Regions from separate parts of the Homo sapiens genome. Here region 2 is reported to be linked to region 1. Evidence: microRNA targets listed by miRTarBase, many of them from high-throughput screens and not tested one by one. Region 1 holds a microRNA gene; the other region holds the end of a gene's coding sequence.

The links. Region 1 holds the annotated microRNA hsa-miR-124-3p (UAAGGCACGCGGUGAAUGCCAA, at 2,769-2,790, opposite strand). A microRNA usually pairs through its seed, bases 2 to 8, with sites in the 3' UTR of a target mRNA and lowers its output. Matches are read on the target gene's strand: a 7mer-m8 pairs with bases 2 to 8, a 7mer-A1 pairs with bases 2 to 7 and ends in A, and an 8mer does both.
Region 2: miRTarBase lists SWAP70 as a target of hsa-miR-124-3p. Seed matches in the 3' UTR shown: 7mer-m8 at 2,841-2,847.

What each region holds. Positions count from the first base shown.
Region 1 is chr8:9,900,631-9,905,630 of GRCh38, forward strand. MIR124-1 (microRNA 124-1) reads right to left here and starts at 2,842; the gene lies at 2,758-2,842. It overlaps MIR124-1HG (MIR124-1 host gene), which reads right to left and starts at 2,699. Exons shown (of 3, transcript NR_024281.1): 1 at 59-2,699. It overlaps LOC124902057 (a long non-coding RNA gene), which reads right to left. Exons shown (of 4, transcript XR_007061170.1): 2 at 4,529-4,732; 3 at 3,902-3,998; 4 at 3,440-3,557.
Region 2 is chr11:9,749,032-9,754,119 of GRCh38, forward strand. SWAP70 (switching B cell complex subunit SWAP70) reads left to right here. Exons shown (of 12, transcript NM_015055.4): 11 at 56-152; 12 at 833-3,962. The coding sequence ends at 939. Among named protein-coding and RNA genes, the nearest start is that of SBF2-AS1, 6.7 kb to the right of the region's middle.

The sequences.
Region 1 (5,000 bases):
GTATCACCAATTTTTCCTTTGACACATTTCTAAATCTGGAAGTATCTGGTAGAGTTACCTCAAGAATCATATAAGCTTGCATCACGATGGGGACTGTGATGGCAGTGGTGCATATGAGCCCATCAGGTCCTTCTTCGCGTATTCAGTCAGCAAACTGCCTCAACCGTGTCCTACTTTTTCTTAAGCATATAATTCCCCTTTCATTTAAGCCAGACTGTAGCTAGAGGGGCTCAAATAGGTAAGAGAGAAGATACTAAAGAGTTAAATGCACTCAAAGGGGAGAACTATTCAGATTTCTTATAAAATTACTGGTGGCATAAATAGGCCCCAAATACAGAAGGGAAGGGCTGACCTTCACTCGGACACCTCATTTGAGCACAGAAGGGGCCTGGCAATTACACATGGGGCCAAGTGGTCTATTCATCTCTTTGCCATTTTCAGCCATTAAAGCCCTACATAAACATACATTTCATAATGAGACCCACCCGGTGGACACAGGCAAATGCCCACACCCATGCGCACAGACCTAATAGACCCAGAACACTCCCACACACATTAAAGCTTTCTGGAACAAGAGTTTACATAAGTAATGAAGTAAAAAATATGCCCCTCCCATCATAGATTATCTGCAGCAGAAACCTGGCAGGCGTCAGCCATGGTACCTGTGGTTTAAGCTCTCAGCTTAAAGCATCTGAAAGGGGCATTACGTGGGAAGGCATCTGGAGGTTTTACAGGAGGGCAGCACATCAGCGAAGGGTACAGCAACCTCTGAAGGAATTACGGGGAAGCAGTTACTAAAAAGAGGCTCGTCAATGTGGACGTTTGTGGGGCAAGGGGTTTAGTAATCGGAGGCTTAAACCATGCCTAAGAGAAGCATCCAGCGGCCTTCACAGTGAGCAGAAGGGGCAGAGCAAGGCGCTTCACACCCCAATAAGGCCCAGCACTGACTGCTTTCTTCTTCCCAAACCTGTCCAGAAAGGGCGGAGGGGACACCAGGACTCAGAAAGCTACTGGTTTCGGGGGAGGTATATTTTGAAGGCAACGGCAAATAGACAAGGGCTTGTGAAGGCTCAGGGGTGAGAGAAGCTGTTCTCCCTTTCTGTCCTGCAGCCAAGCTTGCCTTCTGGGACTCCAGAGGCAGCCCAGCACCTGCAGTCTGCAGGATGTGCACTGCAGCTTTCTCTCTGCGGGGGCAAGCAGGTTGTGCCACATTCTGCAGACCCAGAGAAGGTTCTGGAAGTATCTAGGTGAGGTGCAACACACTTAACCTCTGCCTGACTCTAAACACTGCTTTAGGAGGGCAAATGAAGAGCCTAAGAGTTAATAATTACACAAGGATTGCACACAGTAGGTACTTAATAAATATTTGGGGAAACTGAGGCCGGGGAGGGGCCCTGATCCAAGGCATCACTGAATACTAATTTATTTAGCAGGCTAGACTGAGGCTTTGGAGAGGAAAGAAGTCCTCAGTAAGCTTCAGTGGAGACTCTTAGGGCTTGATTATTGTGTCAGGAATCAAATTAATCTCCTAAGCATCCCTTATGGCCTTGGCCTTGCAAAGCCAGGCCTCTGCCATGCTCGGGGGAAGGGATGCAGCAGGCTTCCTGGGCAGAAGGATCCAGCTCTTGGCCTCCTTTCTCTGCTCCTCCCTCTACTGCAGGGACCTGCCCCTCCTCCATTTCCTCCACCTGGAAATTAATGAGCTTAGGTCTTGCCCCATCCGCTGCAGCTTGGTGGTTAATACAGAGCTGGAAATGGGATGAGACTGTGGCAGCGCAGTACGAGGGGGGTCTCTAGGACCAGCTGCTGCTCAGGGTCTAGTGATGGGAGGAAGGCCTGATTTGGGAAGCAGGTTCTTCAGGATGAAAAGCTTAACCCTTTCCATTCCCTGACAGCCTCTTTCAAAACAGTCTTTCCTCAGACCCCCAGTTGCACACATTCTGTTTTTCCTTCTGTTCACATTTTTAAAGGAACACATGTCTCCCTTGGGTCCATGTAGGTTATTGTGCCTCTCCCTTCCTCTGCAGCTCCTGGATCTCTGCCTGAAACTGCAATAACAGCTACAGGGAGGGCGTGAGGTGCTCCTTAGAGCCATGACCACGCTTTCAACTCCGATAGAGCTTGTGAACCCGCTGGGAGCTGGCTCCTTCTTGTCCACATAGCCCAACGACTTCCTTAAGCTTGTCAGGTGCTCTCAGCTCTACAGCAAAGTGTGACAAACAGCTCCCCCTCTCCCTTCCTACCGCCTGCCCTCCTCCCCAAACCTCAAGCAGAACACAATATATCCGCAGTCCAGGCCCTGAGGCAGTCTGCCAGTCTCTGGATGCCAAATTATTATTTTTTTAAGGGCAAACCAAAAAACTCAGCTCAGAACAAAAACACAGTCACGGAGGAAGGTGTTGACCCACATACAATGAGTCCTGAGCCCAGAGAAAAATCTGCACACACAAGCACTCCGCAATGCGCTCCCAGGCGACCCCCTCCCCACGCACACCGCATCTGTGCTGCACAGATCTGCTTCTGTCACAGAATCAGCTTCTGTTTCTCTCCCTGAGTCTGTTTGCATCTCTAAGCCCCTGTCTGTCACAGGCTGCACACCTCCCCACCCCACGGGCTCCGGTGCGGGACAGGCAGCCGGAGGGAGCTCCAGACCCCTCCCCTCGCGCCCGCGGCCGCTGCGCGGAGGTCTGCGGAGGGCGCCTGGCTCGGTCGGTCGCTCCTTCCTTGGCGGGCCCTCGCCGACCCACGGTGCTCAGCCAGCCCCATTCTTGGCATTCACCGCGTGCCTTAATTGTATGGACATTTAAATCAAGGTCCGCTGTGAACACGGAGAGAGAGGCCTTTCTCCTGAGGAAGGAAAGGAGGAAGGAAGGAAGGAAAGGTGAAAGAAAGGAAGAGGGGTGGGTAGAAGATGGAATAAGAAAACCAGGAAAAAGAAATAAAAAGCGGCGCGTGTGCGTGCGCACTGACAGCGGGGAGAGGGATGGGGGTGGGGAACGCCGGAGGAAGGGACCACAGCATCCTCCCCGCCGCAGCTCCCCCAATCACACAGACAATGAGATAACAGCGACGTCTTCCAAAGGCTCTTTGTTCTCCCCCATCCTTTCGCATCCAGGCTTTTTCCTGCAAAGCGGAGGGGGTGGAGGGATGGGGGTGTGGGTGGAAGTGGGAGACGGAGGGGTGCCTCCCCCGTGTTAATTACCCCGGCTCCCCTCGCCCCTTTCCCCGCGCCTCGCCTCCCCTGCAGCTCCAGACAATGAAAAAACAACATCGACCCCACCTCGCCCCAGCGCAGCAACCCACCCACCCATGTCGCCCTCTGCTTCGCCCAGGAAACTGAAGGGGACTAGGAGGAGGAAGAAGAGAGCGAAGGACAAGGAGAGCAGCGGGGACTCGGCAGCGGCAGCCGGGGCAGGGCGCGCGGCCGCCGCCTCTTTACCTCCATCGCTGAGTGGGGGCGCAGCCGGGCCGGGCGTGCCGCAGGGGCGAGTTGCCGCGGTCCGGGGCTGGGACCTGGGGATTCAGCCTTCCGGAACTCGCCTGCTGCAGTCCTCTCGCTCAGGTCCCAAGTGGTGGAGGGGGGAAAGGAAGAGAGACGAGAGAGAGAGAGACAGAGAGAGAGAGAGAGAGAGGAAGAAGAAGAAGAAGAAGAAAAAAAAACCATAAGAGCGAGGCCCATCTGGCCCCTCATCAGCTTTGTCAAGTCTTGCATACGCTAAAATGCTAATGACCTAGATAGCTCATGCAAAATGCAGCAGGGAGGGCGGGAGCGAGGGAGGTGGGAGGGAGGAAGAGAGAGGAGTGCAGGGGGGAGGGAGGGAGGAGAGGCGGAGGGAGGGAGAGAGGGAGAGAGCACCCCTACACTCTCCCCACCCCACCCCCAACTGTCAGCGGGCTTTACCAGGTAAAGGGTGGACGTAGATTTAAAAGGTCACTCGTGTATAATGCGGCTGGATCCCCGGGTCAAAAAAAGGGGGCGAGACAGAGGATGAGAGTCCCTAAAGCCAAAAGGACAATAAGACATCATTTTAAGCCCCCACCCCCATGCCCTCCTCCACCTCTCCACACTGTTTACACACAAATCCTGTCGCCGCCTCATGCATGTGCACGGACATGTCAATTTCTCATCAATTTCTCAGCGCTCCTATCGACAGACACCCGAATTCTCATTCCCAGCAAAACTCATCCACTGGACCCGAGGGAGGAGAAGACCCCTTCTCCTCCTCAGTGCTCTTCGGGCTGGCCCATCCCTACTCACCTCCATCTCCACTCTCTACTCCCTTAGCCCTCCAGGCAGCAGAGGGCTCCTTCTCTTTTCTAAGCCTTGAGTCCCCTGTCCCCTTTCCAACCCCCGCATCTTGAGAAGGAGACGCAGAGTAGCAGGAAAGCCAAGTCAAGTCCACCTAGGTCTCCCACAATTCAGCTACCCCTCCCAGAAAAAAAAAGAGACCCCAACAACCCCGACCCCTCTCCTACGTAGACACTGTGAAAGCAAGCCACAGGGACAAATAAAAGACAATCCGAATACCCTCAGCGTTCCGCACGCCGGGCGGACGCCCTTCCGCAGCGGCCACGCGTGTTCTGGGTTCAGCGCTCCTGCGCGTCCCTTCTCGCCGAACCCAAGGTGCTTTGTCCCGGCGGCCACACAAGGTCTTCGGCTTTTTGTTCTCCTTTTTTAAGAGACTGGCCGCAGTCCCCAGCGATTCAGCCGGCCCAACCAAAGGCAGTGGATCTACTGAAATGAAAAGGATCGAGATAATACACAGGCAGATGAATAAGGGGGGGGATGCTGGAGGTGCAGGAAGCATCCTGGGAGCGGCCGCCACGGCCAAGCCCGAACTGCTTGCTGCCTTCGCTGGGGAAGGCGCAGGAGGCGAGCCGGCGCTGGTGGTCGCTCCACCTGGCAGGAGGAAATGATAACCATGATAAGGAACGTGATGATGATGATGATGATGATGATGATGATGATGAGCATGATTTAAAAAAAATCAGTCTCCCTC
Region 2 (5,088 bases), not on the chromosome of region 1:
TTGGTTCTTAAACTACCCGTGTGTCTGCATAGTCCAAAATCCACTTTTGTTTCAGGAAGTTAAAAAGAAGCTGGAGATGGCAACTAATAAGACCAAGAGCTGGAAGGACAAAGTGGCCCATCATGAAGGATTAATTCGACTGATAGAACCAGGTAACAGACTCTATGAAGTAATCATATATTTATTTTTATTTTTCATTTTTATTTTATTTAATTAATTTATTTATTTTGAGATGGAGTCTCGCTCTGTCGCCCAGGCTGGATGGAGTGCAGTGGTGCGATCTTGGCTCACTGCAAGCTCCGCCTCCTGGGTTCATGCCATTCTCCTGCCTTAACCTCCCAAGTAGCTGGGACTACAGGTGCCCGCCACCACGACCGGCTAATTTTTTGTATTTTTAGTAGAGACGGGGTTTCACCGTGTTAACCAGGATGGTCTTGATCTCCTGACCTCGTGATCCGCCCGCCTCAGCCTCCCAAAGTCCTGGAATTACAGGCGTGAGCCACCACGCCCTGCCCATATATTTATTTTTAAATTTATTTTTCTGTTTCACTTGTGTATTTGAATTGTACTAAAGAAACTTTTTTAGCCCAAATGTAAAAAAACCAAGCTGTTCAGGATAAATTTCTCTTGAAAATCTTATCCCCTAATAGGTAAGAGGGCCCAGTTAATCCCCTTGGTATACATCTTCTAATTGTTTTAGCTGGTATGACATTTATGCATGTTCCTCAAAGAAGAAATAAAGTAGGGAAGTTACTATTTTGTCTGTAGAAAAATGATGGGGTATCCTGAAGAATATAATACTTCCTGTATTTAAAGCATGTTTGCCTCTTAGGTTCAAAGAACCCTCACCTGATCACTAACTGGGGACCTGCAGCTTTCACTGAGGCAGAACTTGAAGAGAGAGAGAAGAACTGGAAAGAGAAAAAGACCACGGAGTGACTGAGCTTGCTGGCAGTCACGTCAGTTATGTAGATACTGCATGGCAGGAGAGCTTTACGCTAAAGACAAAAGAAACAGCTTTGGGGGCCGGGCGTGGTGGCTCACGCCTGTAATCCCAGCACTTTGGGAGGCCGAGGCGGGTGGATCACCTGAGGTCAGGAGTTCAAGAGCAGCCTGGCCAACCTGGTGAAACCCTGTCTCTACTAAAAATACAAAAAAAATTAGCTGAGCGTGGTGGCGGGCGCCTGTAATCCCAGCTACTTGGGAGGCTGAGGCAGGAGAATCACTTGAACGTGGGAGGCGGAGGTTGCAGCGAGCTGAGATCATGCCGTTGTACTCCAGCTTGGGCAACAGAGTGAGACTCCATCTCAAAACAAAACAAAACAAAACAAAACAAAAAAACCCGGCTTTGCTGCTTTTAACTCTTCTTCCTTCTGTGCCTCTCTAAGTGGGTCAGTATCCTAAGGAAGCCTTCTTATTTATCTTCCTGCAAACAAGGGTTACCTGAAAAGAAAAAAAAAGTCAACATTGTCAAGCTGTTTGTTTACTCTTTCTTTGAAAACATCACCTTCTGAAATTTGTCTTTTAGCTCTCTCAGATTCTTCCCCAAATGAGGCAGGGTGCAGACAGCACAGTCAGCTCTGCAGAGTTTGGAGGGGCTCACTGCCACTGGGTACTCAGAACCTCTGTGGACTGGATGTCAGCTCTTTCCTTTGGCAGCGTGTTTCCTTTTCCGAGTATGTGCTGTTAAACTAGATTGGCCGGTTCGCTTTCCATTTCCTGACACTTGACATGGAATGCCTTTGACCATTGGTGCTCTGACAGAGAAGTCATGGAGTCATTGCCATTTCCTGGTTGCCCTTTTGGAATGTGATCCTGTTAGTAGAGGTTTTCTAGCTTCTACTAAGATATTTCTTTCCCTAACCATCATACACTTGGCATGTTTCATTCCCATCTCCTTTCCCCTCACCTTAAAGGAGACTACCCCTTTGCCCCATATTGTCAACCTAATTTTCTCTCGTACTCTCTCTAGTGAATGATGTGCTACCAAGTATATGCCAGGCTGTGAGAGGATTATACTGAGTAGTAGAAAGAAGCTAATTTGAAATAAAAATTATTTGTATAATTAAGAAAGCAGATTAGATGCACATGGTCAACAGGAAGTTGACTGTATGTCTGCTAGTTAGATTCAAAACATCATAAAGATGATAGCATGTCAATATATTAGCCTAGCCATTATGTTAGCCTTTGTTAGGTGGGCAGCTTTTCTGCTTTTTCCCTTCCTCTGTGGTGACAACGGAGGAAATATCCAACAGAAATACGTCTAACAGGGAAATTGGGATCATAGTTTATATGCATCTGATTTGAAAGGAGTATTGAGGAAGGTTTTCATATATGATCTATCTTTGGATTAAAAAGAACATTTATGAAATCAAGCCTTCTAACACTAGTTATAATTGAGAAGCAACAGTAACTCCGTGGACAGCAATCAAGCTTAAAATTGTAAATAAATATGGGGATAATTCAGTTGTTGCAAAAAAAGGGCAGAATTCAGTAGAATAAAGTCCTTTTCTCTTACAGGTATTAAATGAGGACAGAGAACCTCAGGTGTTCTTATGCTAGTGCTTGCTGAGTGCATACTAAGAAAGCAATTCCAAATAGATGTATACATCTAGAGAGAGTGGTATTAGAGATTCAGTGTATGTATTTATTTACATGAGAGGAAACTGGAATATAATCCCATAAATTATCACCTTTTATGACTGGAAAATATTTGCCAATGAAGAAATGGTCTGTAGGTATTTGTCTTAAGATTTTTGGCTGTTTAATAAAAATGTAACTTTAACGGTTTCTTATAGTTGCCTTTATAAAGTGTATTGTCTAAAATATTTTTGTATCATGTGCCTTTGAAATTTGACAGCTGATTTGGGTGTTGGATTTCTGCCCAGCCATTTATCAGTATTATCATTTTATTCAGTAGCTGGCAGGTGTATTAGACCAACGAGACTTAGGTAAGGAATGGAACCTTTCCTGTGGTTTGACTGCACATTACACCAGAAGACTCCAGTATCCCTCATTCCAGAATGAGGAAAAAGTATTCTACAAAGAACCTAATCACCTCTGTGAAATCTATGGGATGGAAACAGTGTGGCCTTAGGAGTCAAATAGTCTCTGCATGGTGGGGAGGATCATGATGGAATATGTGAATTTCTACTTCTAGAAGTTGTGAAATAGGTCCTGCACTTTTGCAGAATGTCCTTCTTTAAACCTGGCTTATTCCACAGCTGTAGCTGATAACATGACCTGGGGCTTAGCTGCTCTAGCCCTGGGTTCTTGGAGACCTCACACTGCCTGGCCCCTGGCCATCCACCTAAGGACTGCCTGCTTTCTGGTCACATGTGGACCTTGATACGACTAAGCGGTTACATATGTGGTTGTGCAAAAGCTTTCTGTTTAATGCATAGTGTTACCGATTTACATCTTGGTTTTCAGTGGCACTATGTCTAGGAGGCAATATCCTTTTAAACAGTGCTTTGGCTAAGATAGATACTTGTGAATCAAAGATAGCACAGAAATGAACTAAGTATATCCCATTTGGAATTATATTTTGATACTATTTAAAATGGTTTCACCTGTTAAAGGGCCAACAGAACTCTTGGTTTTACTTTTGTAATTACTGTACAGAAAATTTCAAGAGTGTTTGAGTGCTTGTCATCAGGTGTTTTCCTTAATAAGTAGGGATATGATCATTTACAGGAATTATATATGAAAAAAGTTTTTGAAATGTATTTTTGTGATGTGCTATGTTGAGGGGAAACCAAATATTTATGATTTTAAAACATTCGTATGAAAACATTGTACAATGTAATATGCTCAACTTTCTCAATTTTTTGCTAATTTTTCTAAGATACATTAAAAATGTTTTATATTTTTTTTTAAGTAAAATGGACCCAGTAAGAAAATTAAAAATACCAGAACATACACTTTAAACTGTCTGATTTAATAAAACAGTGGGGGGTAAAGTTGGGTGTATCTATGTGTATTTTCATATAATGAGATGGACTTTGGTTTAGGGACATTTCCTGAAAACACTGGGTTTGGAGTTTAGACCCCAAGAAGTTAGCTGTGGCCTCATGTTTGGTGTTTGAGTCACGAATGTGGGGAAGCCATGGCTGATGTGTCAGCTCACAAACGGGAACTTACAAAGATGATTTCTCATTCATTGTTGCTGTTACCTTCAAATTTTCTTACCTCTGTTTTCCTTAGTTTTCTTTTTATGCCTTTCAGTTTTTCTTTCACCAGAGTAAACCGTGTGGCTTTTTGTTTGTTTGTTGTGGTTTGCATTGTTGCCAAGATAAAATGCCTGTTGTGGACTAAGTGGGCCCACTCAGGCCAGCTTGATTGTATATTGGAAAGCTGATCTTTCCCTCTTGGAGGGAGGGAGAGGACACTGGTTGGTGTGTTTAAAAACTGTTCTTTCTGAGGCGGGCAGATCATGAGGTCAGGAGATCGAGACCATCCTGGCTAACACGGTGAAACGCCGTCTCCACTAAAAATACAAAAAAATTAGCCAGGCGTGGTGGCGGGCGCCTGTAGTCCCAGCTACTCGGGAGGCTGAGGCAGGAGAATGGCGTGAACCCGGGAGGCGGAGCTTGCAGTGAGCCAAGATCATGCCACTGCACTCCAGCCTGGGCGACAGAGGGAGACTCCGTCTCAAAAAAACAAAAACAAAAAACTGTTCTTTCTCTATCACAGTGGTTCTCAACTGGTGGTAATTTTGCCCTCCAGGGGACATTTGGCAACGTCTGGAGACATTTTTTGTTGTCACAACTGGAGGGAGTGTTGCTGGCATCGAGTAGGTAGAGGCCAGGGATGCTGCAAAACATCTTAAAATGCCCAGGACAGCCCCCATTAACAATTATGTGGACTAAAATGTCAGTAGTGGCAAGGTTGAGAAAACCTGCTCTACAGAAAGGCAAGTTCTATTATCCAGAACACAATATAACCCTTGGAGTCAGGGTTTCCCTTTCAGATGTCCTAGGAGTTGACTGACCTCTTCAGTGCAAATGAGGAGCACCTGGAAGGGAGAATGCCTGTTTCTCTGTGAGCTGGCAGAGAGCAGAGGGCAGGGACCTCTGACACACCCAG